2 linked regions of the Homo sapiens genome follow. The protein of the gene in region 1 binds, or shares a complex with, the protein of each later gene. Links are inferred from orthologs where the notes say so. Each region holds a gene or a part of one and is shown on either strand. Other genes may lie near its edges.

Region 1 (3,600 bases):
ACCCTGGGAGACAGAGGGAGACTCTTTCTCAAAAAAAAAAAAAAAAAAAAAAAAGAGGAAAAAAGGAAATCCCCATTATGTTAGGCAAACAAAAACAGCCAGTTTGTGACTGGTGGCTAAATCAAGAAGGATCTTACAAGACATTTTAAGTGGTTTGGACTTTATATCAAGAGTCAGAGAGTGCCATTACAGAAATTTAAATAGTGGAGTACATAAAAGACAAACTGATGACGTTGTAAAGACTGGATTAGAAGGGGATAAAACTGCGGCCTGGGAAACTGGTTAGGTGACTTAGGCAGTATGCAAGATTTGAAATGATAGTGGCCTGAAACAAGATAGTGGTAGTGGGTATAAAGAGGAATTTGATACATTAGAGAGATATTATAGAGCCAGAAGCAAAAGCACTCAGTAATGGATTGGAAGTGTGGGGCAAAGGAGAGAAAACAATCACGAAAGTCATTAGCTACAAAAAAATCTTTAAAATGTATTGATTTATCTAGGTGTGGTGACTCACACTTGTAATCCCAGCACTTTGGGAGGCCAAGGGAGGGGGGCGGGCAGGGATTGCTTGAGGCCAAGAGTTCAAGACCAGCCTGGGCAACATAGCAAGCCCCTGTGTTTACCAACAACAAAAAAATTAAGAAAATTAAAAAAATGTATTGACTTCTATTGGTTTGCCAAATGAAGTTTAGTATTAAATCCAAAATTGAGTCAGAGCAGTGTGAACTGAGACAGCCATCTTCATCTTCTCCCTCTTTTTTTCAGTTTGTTTTGAAATTTAGTTTTATATACTTAAGACTTACCTTCTGGCAATTTGGAATTAAATTTCTGAGATTGCTGTAAATTATTTCCTTTCTTTGTTTCTCTTCCTCTTTCTTACTTCCCTATTTTACTCTTAATATTTTATTGTTTTAGTTGAATTCTAAAACATCTTATCAGAACTTAGAGTTTTTATTTCTCCACCCACAGAACCATGGAGTCTTTAAGTATCAGAAATTTGTCTCCTCGTCAGAATCTTCTAGATTTCCAGAAGTTTCCAAGTCGCTACATATAAATGTTGCAGAAAAACGTGTAATTCTCATGTGCAAGTAGGCTTTTTTCAGCGGATACATTTAGCATTATAGTCAATTGTTATTTCGTTGCCTTAAAAGAAGCTGTTTTCATTGTAAAGGTGATGTGTTTTTACCATATAATTCAAATTTGCATAGGTACTTCATATTTTAAAAGGTGACTCACAGGTATGTCACTAATAAAAACAGTAACATTTAAACGACTGAGAAGGTAGGGGCTCTAAATAAAGTAAATGCGTCGGCGAGGGTAGGAGCGGGAAGAGGCAAAGGGGTGCGAAATTCCCATCCCAAGCCCCCTCCTCCAAAGACCGAATGGCAACTTAGTTGTGCGGGAAGGTTCCCCCCTATGCAGGGCAGCCCAGTCCAAGCCGGCCCGATCCGGGGCCGAGTGAGCAGTGGTTCTTGCCGCAACCGCCACGCAGCCTCGCTGCCGCCCAAGCGCGGACACCTGGTTCCTGGGTCCCCCGCGCGGAGCCCCGGACTCCTCGCCCCTTCTCCGAACAACTTTCTCCCTGCTTGAACTGATTCTCGCTGTTGGTAGACTGCACAGTCACAGTATCCAGCCGGACAGGACCTGCTTTGCCGGGACTGGAAACAACTACCGCGGCAAAAGAGGCCGTTTCGCCATGGGAAGAACAAGAACTCCCGGCTTGTCCAGGGGCAGCCCCTCTCTGCGCTGCAGGGCGCCTACCCTCGCCCCAGAGGCTCTGCGCCGCGGGCGGGGCGACCCCGGGGGTCGCGCGCCCTCTCCCGGAGCGCGCCCTCCCTCCCGGAGCGCGCGCCCGACGGCCTGCCGCGGCCCCGGCGCCCCCGCCCCTTCGGGCGCTCCGTAGCCGTGACGTGCACGCCGCAGTGCCGGGGACTCGGCGGGGCGCCGGCCGGCGGGCGGAGACCGACTCGGGATCTGTCCGAGCAGGAAGCCAGCCTCAGCCCGGCCGCTGTCGCCGCCCTGTCCTGGTGCCCGTCCGCGTCGTCGCCCTCTTCACTGGCCCTCATCACTTCTCACCGCGCCCTCCAGCTTCACCCGTACAGGTAGCCCCGCCGCCGCGCACCTGCCTTCGCTCCCGCACCGGTGAGTGTCCCAGAGACCCACTGCGGGGCGTCGGCGCCGGGGTCTCGCGTTCCCTGGCCCGGCCTTGCTCCCGGGCCTCCTCGAGCAGCTCCGGGGCCGACGCTTCTGTTCACTGCCCGAGGACGCGGGTGGGAGAAGCAGGTGATGGATGGGTGGGCCCTGGGCAGCAGTGGGGCCGGCGGTGGTTCTCGTTTCCACCGAAAGACAATCAGTCTCCTTTCATGGGTTCTCATCACCAAGGTCCCTTTGTGTTTCTTCCCTGGCTCCCAGGTAGAAGCAGAGCACTCAGGTGCCTAACTCGGACTTGGACACTCCGTGATAGTTTTATTTTCTCTTTTGTAAACACGCTTAAAATTCAGTGCAGGGGGAGCGCAGTTTGCTCTGAGATGTGAAGATCAAATGATACCATTAATAGTCTAATCATGTAGGAGACCAGATCGAGACTTTCTAAAGCCTTATTCTTAGTCTCCAGGTGGTCCAGTACCTTGAGTATGTTAATTTACGGATATGCTACTGAACAAGAACTTTTTTTGTTAATTTCCAAAAACTCCCTAAAACGATTAAAATGCTTAAACTCTGGGATTTTAATTTTAAGTAGGACACAATTTGATGGGGTTATTGCTAGAACATCCGTGTTTAAAAGTATTTCCATACAGTTTAAAAAATTCATTACCTTTTTTTTTTTTTTTTGAGACGGAGCCTTGGTCTGTCGCCCAGGCTGGAGTGCGGTGGTGCGATTTCCTCTCACTGCACCCTCCCCCTCGCGGGTTCAAGCAATTCTCTGCCACAGCCTCCCGAGTAGCTGGGATTACAAGCGCCCACCACCACGCCTGGCTAATTTTTTTGTATTTTTAGTAGAGACGGGGTTTCACCATCTTGGCCAGGCAGGTCTTGAAATCCTGACCTCTTGATCCATCCGCCTCGGTCTCCCAAAGTGCTGGGATTACAGGCGTGAGCCACTGCGCCTGGCCAAATATTCTTTACATCTTACCTGGCATAAAGTGATGTGGTGGAGGGATGCTTAAATCCTGATTTACAAGTATTAGTGAGAAATGAGGAGCACTGCCCTAACTTAATAGACTTAACTGTACGGGCTAAATAAGCCTCATTTTTTTTTTTTTTTTAATGCTCTGGTGGTATAGATGCAGTCTATCTAAATAAAGTCAGAACTTGAGAGTTTTAAAAATTAACTTTTTTTTTTTTGAGACAGAGCCTCGCTCTGTCAGCTCACTGCAACCTCCACCTCCCAGGTTCGAACGATTGACCTCCCTCAGCCGCCCGAGTGGCTGGGACTACAGTAAGGGCGCGCCACTGCCCAGCTAATTTTTGTATTTTTAGCAGAGACGGGGATTCGCCATGTTGGCCAGGCTGGTCTCGAACTCCTGACCTCAGGTGATCCACTCGCCTCGGCCTCCCAAAGTGCTAGGATTACAGGCTTGAGCCCCCGCGCCTGGCCTG
Region 2 (4,119 bases), on another chromosome or scaffold:
TTTCTTCCAGAAGGTGGGAAACTGTTGTAAAGTTTCAGGCAGGGCAGTGATGCCATCTGGTTTACGTTTTAAAATAGAGACATGAAGTTAAATGACAGCCTGAAGCTGGAAGACAAGAGTTCTGCCAGGGCAGCATGCAATTAAGTTCATGGGCCTGAGCCATCTGTACCACAGGGGCAGTTCCAGCATGCTGGGGCAAGCCTGGGAGGCTTCATGGAGGAGTGGGCCTGGAGTAGGTATTGGCAGGCAGAGAGGGTTGGGATATTCCTGGGCAGGGCAGGGCAGAGGAGGAGACACCCATAGTAATGACAACAGCGTCCTTAAATGGAGTCTGAGGCAGAGTGTAGATGGGATACGTGGGTAATCTCTTTGGATTTCCACAACCACCTTGAGAGTGACAGGAATTCCACCCATTTTTCAGATGAAGAAACTGAGGCCCTGTGATGTGAAGTGACTTGCCCCCCAGCCACACAGCTGGTAAGTGGCAGGGGTGGGATTTGAACCCAGGCCACGAAGCCTCTTATGGCCGTGGCAGGCAGATTCATTACTCACTCACTTTCCTCACTGCTGTTAATGCCTCCTCACGGGTGGGGACACGGAAGCTGGCATGAACCAGGGCAGTGGGGTGGGCAGAGAGAGAGAGTAAGGAGGCTGGGAATTGGTGGTCAGGATGTAGGGATCTTGGGAAAAGGAGGAAGCTTGAATCTTGGTACAGATGGCAGTAGCAAGGCCGGGTGCAGTGGCTCACGCCTATAATCCCAGCACTTTGGGAGGCCGAGGCAGGTGGATCACGAGGTCAGGGGATCGAGACCATCCTGGCTAACATGATGAAACAGCGTCTCTACTAAAAATACAAACAATTAGCTGGGCATGGTGGCGGGCACCTGTAGTCCCAGCTACTCGGGAGGCTGAGGCAGGAGAATGGCGTGAACCCGGGAAGCAGAGCTTGCAGTGAGCTGAGATCGTGCCACTGCACTCCAGCCTGGGCAACAGAGCGAGACTCCGTCTCAAAAAAAAAAACAAAAGATGGCAGTAGCAGTAATTGTCACCAATATTTATGCAACCCTTATTGTGTGCCAGGACTGTTCCAAGCACATGCATGATTTCCTTGGAGCTCAGAGAGGTTAAGACCCTTGCCCAAAGTCACACAGCTATTAAGAGATGAAGCCAGGTTCCAGATTCATGTTTTTAGTTTCCTGCCTCCCAGTGCGTAGAGCTGGCGGAATTGGAGGGATGATGAGGGGTCTTTTCTTTTTTCTTTTTTTTGAGATGGAGCCTCACTCTGTCACCCAGGCTGGAGTGCAGTGGCACGATCTTGGCTCACTGCAAACTCCACCTCCCGGGTTCATGCCATTCTCCTGCCTCAGCCTTCCGAGTAGCTGGGACTGCAGGCGCCCGCCACCACGCCTGGCTAATTTTGAAAATATATGGCTGGGCGTGGTGGCTCATGCCCACCTCGGCCTCCCGGAGTGTTAGGATTACAGGCGAGAGCCACCACACCCGGCCGACACTGATTTTTCTTTCCAGCGAGGTCAGAGCCCGGGGAGGGGTCAGAGCAGAGACAAATGCGACATGACTTATGTTTTACAGGACCATTCTGGCTGCTGTCTGGACAAGAAGTCGTAGGGGGTGAGGGTGGAAGCTGGGAAACCCACAGGAGGCAACCACACTAGTTTAGGTAAGTGATCATGGAGATGGACCAGGTGAGATGAGAGGGTGTGTTAGGGGACAGACGAATGGATGCATGAACAAATGGATACATGAGACTAGGTGCAGGCTGGGTGCAGTGGCTCACACCTCTAATCCCAGCACTCTGGGAGGCCAAGGTGGGCGAATCACCTGAGGTCAGGAGTTCCAGACCAGCCTGGTCAACATGGAGAAACCCCATCTCTACTAAAAATACAAAAATTAGCCAGGTGTGGTGGCACGCACCTGTAATCCCAGCTACTCAGGAGGCTGAGGCAGGAGAATCGCTTGAACCTGGGAGGTGGAGGTTGCAGTGAGCCGAGATCGCGCCATTGCACTCCAGCCTGGGTGACAGAGTGAGAGTTCATCTCAAAAAAAAAAAAGATTGGATGCGGCCAAGCTGAATCCAGCATGGCCCCCTGGAAGAGACCATTGGATAGGAGGCACCAGGAAGTCCCTTTTACATAAGAAAATATAGGCTGAGCGCAGTGGCTCACACCAGCCTTCTTTGGCTCACACCATGTTGGCCAGGCTGGTCTCAAACTCCTGACCTCAGGTGATCCACCCGCCTCGGCCTCCCAAAGTGTTGGGATTACAGGCGGGAGCCACCGTCCCTGCACCCGGCCTAACTAATGTATTTTCTTTCTTTCTTTCTTTCTTTTTTTTTTTTTTTGAGATGGAGTCTCGCTCTGTCACCCAGGCTAGAGTGCAGTGGCATGATCTCGGCTCACTGCAAGCTCCGCCTCCCGAGTTCACGCCATTCTCCTGCCTCAGCCTCCCGAGTAGCTGGGACTACAGGTGTGTGCCACCACGCCCAGCTAATTTTTTTTGTATTTTTAGTAGAGACGGGGTTTCACTGTGTTAGCCAGGATGGTCTCGATCTCCTGACCTCGTGATCCACCCGCCTTGGACTCCCAAAGTGCTGGGATTACAGGCGTGAGCCACCACACCTGGCCTTTTTTTTCTTTTTGAGACAGAATTTCGCTCTTATTGCCCAGGCTGGAGTGCAATGGCACTGTCTCAGCTCACCTCAACCTCTGCCTCCCAGGTTCAAGCGATTCTCCTGCCTCAGCCTCCCTAGTAGCTGGGATTACAGGCATGTGCCACTACACCCAGCTAATTTTGTATTTTTAGTAGAGATGGGGTTTCTCCATGTTGGTCAGGCCAGTCTCGAACTCTCGACCTCAGGTGATCCGCCTGCCTCTGCCTCCCAAAGTGCTGGGATTACAGGCGTGAACCACCGTTCCTGGCCTAACTAATGTATTTTCTTTTTTTTCTTTTTGAGACTGAGTCTCTCTCTGTTGCCCAGGCTGGAGTGCAATGGCACGGTCTTGATTCACCGCAACCTCCACCTCCCAGGTTCAAGCAATTCTCCTGCCTCAGCCTCCCCAGTAGCTGGGATTACAGGTGCCCACCACCGTGCCTGGCCTAATTTTTTGTAATTTTAGTAGAGACGGGGTTTCACCATGTTGGCCAGGCTGGTCTTGAACTGCTGACCTCGTGATCCGCCCGCCTCGGCCTCCCAAAGTGCAGGGATTACAGGTGTGAGCCACTGCACCTGGCCAACTACTGTAAGTTCTGGAGAACTAATCCGGGCTCTTGAGAGCAAGCACTCATTGCTTCCAGAGCTACTTCAAGCCATTCAGGAGAGATCTGGCCCCATAACACAGACACCTCCCACTAGGCCCCACCTCCCAACACCGCACCACCACTTTGGGGATCAAATTTTAGCATGAGTTTCTTTTTTTTTTTTTTTCTCCTTGCCATGTTTCACATTTAATAAGATTCTGTCACTTTAATACATAAAACCCTTTGAAATCAATGTCAACCAGGAAAATTCATGTTAGAAAAAATTGGAATGAGAGCTAATATTGTATATTCAGAACATCTGAAAAAACATTTTTGACTATTACAAAAGTTTATTTAACAAAAAGTCTAATATGAAAATGTACATGACCTAATTTTTACATCATAGTAAAACAGGCCCTATGGAGAGAGGACATGGGTTTCTCTGCTGAACAGCCATTATTTATACTCATTCCAAGGCTTCTAACATGATGATACTATTTCCTCGTATTTCCACCATTCCAATATTTTTCTGTTGTCCACTAGTCGCCATCTCCACACATTCATCTATCACAAGGTTCATAAAGGGATCAAATCCCCGCAATATTCCTTGGACATGTCTGCCACCATTTAATTTCAATGAAAACTTCTTGTCCGTAAATTTTTTCAACTCAGGAGGGTGAGCTTTGCTCATGGTGTATACTCCATGGGCTCACAGATGCCTTGGAACAGAACGCACGGCTTCCCTCACGCTACCGCGGTAGGCCCAGCATCTTGTGCCTGGCGTCATCGACCTCGTTAGCCAATCGATTGTTCGAGCATGAGTTTCAATGGGGCAAACCTTATCCAAACCATAGCAGGCTGGGT

What was found.
Region 2: the proteins of MYO6 (region 1) and GIPC1 are in contact, whole or in part, in a crystal structure (PDB 5V6E), measured with the Mus musculus proteins. The link is inferred for Homo sapiens from one-to-one orthologs. Residues at the interface, in NP_001034635.2 of Mus musculus: Ser1055, Lys1056, Trp1057, Lys1058, Tyr1059, Ala1060, Arg1084, Arg1085, Leu1086, Val1088, Tyr1089, Trp1092, Lys1093, Asn1096; in NP_061241.1 of Mus musculus: Glu273, Ser274, Tyr275, Met276, Gly277, Ile278, Arg279, Asp280, Glu282, Leu283, Thr286, Asp310, Phe311, Ala312, Pro314, Glu316.

What each region holds. Positions count from the first base shown.
Region 1 is NC_000006.12:75,747,282-75,750,881, forward strand, and holds the start of MYO6 (unconventional myosin-VI), read left to right. Parts: upstream 1-1,957; 5' UTR 1,958-2,142; intron 2,143-3,600. UniProt on the Homo sapiens protein: Myosins are actin-based motor molecules with ATPase activity. Unconventional myosins serve in intracellular movements. Myosin 6 is a reverse-direction motor protein that moves towards the minus-end of actin filaments.
Region 2 is NC_000019.10:14,489,215-14,493,333, reverse strand, and holds part of GIPC1 (PDZ domain-containing protein GIPC1), read left to right. Parts: intron 1-417; exon of another isoform or gene 418-421; 5' UTR 422-477; intron 478-1,590; 5' UTR 1,591-1,678; intron 1,679-4,119. UniProt on the Homo sapiens protein: May be involved in G protein-linked signaling.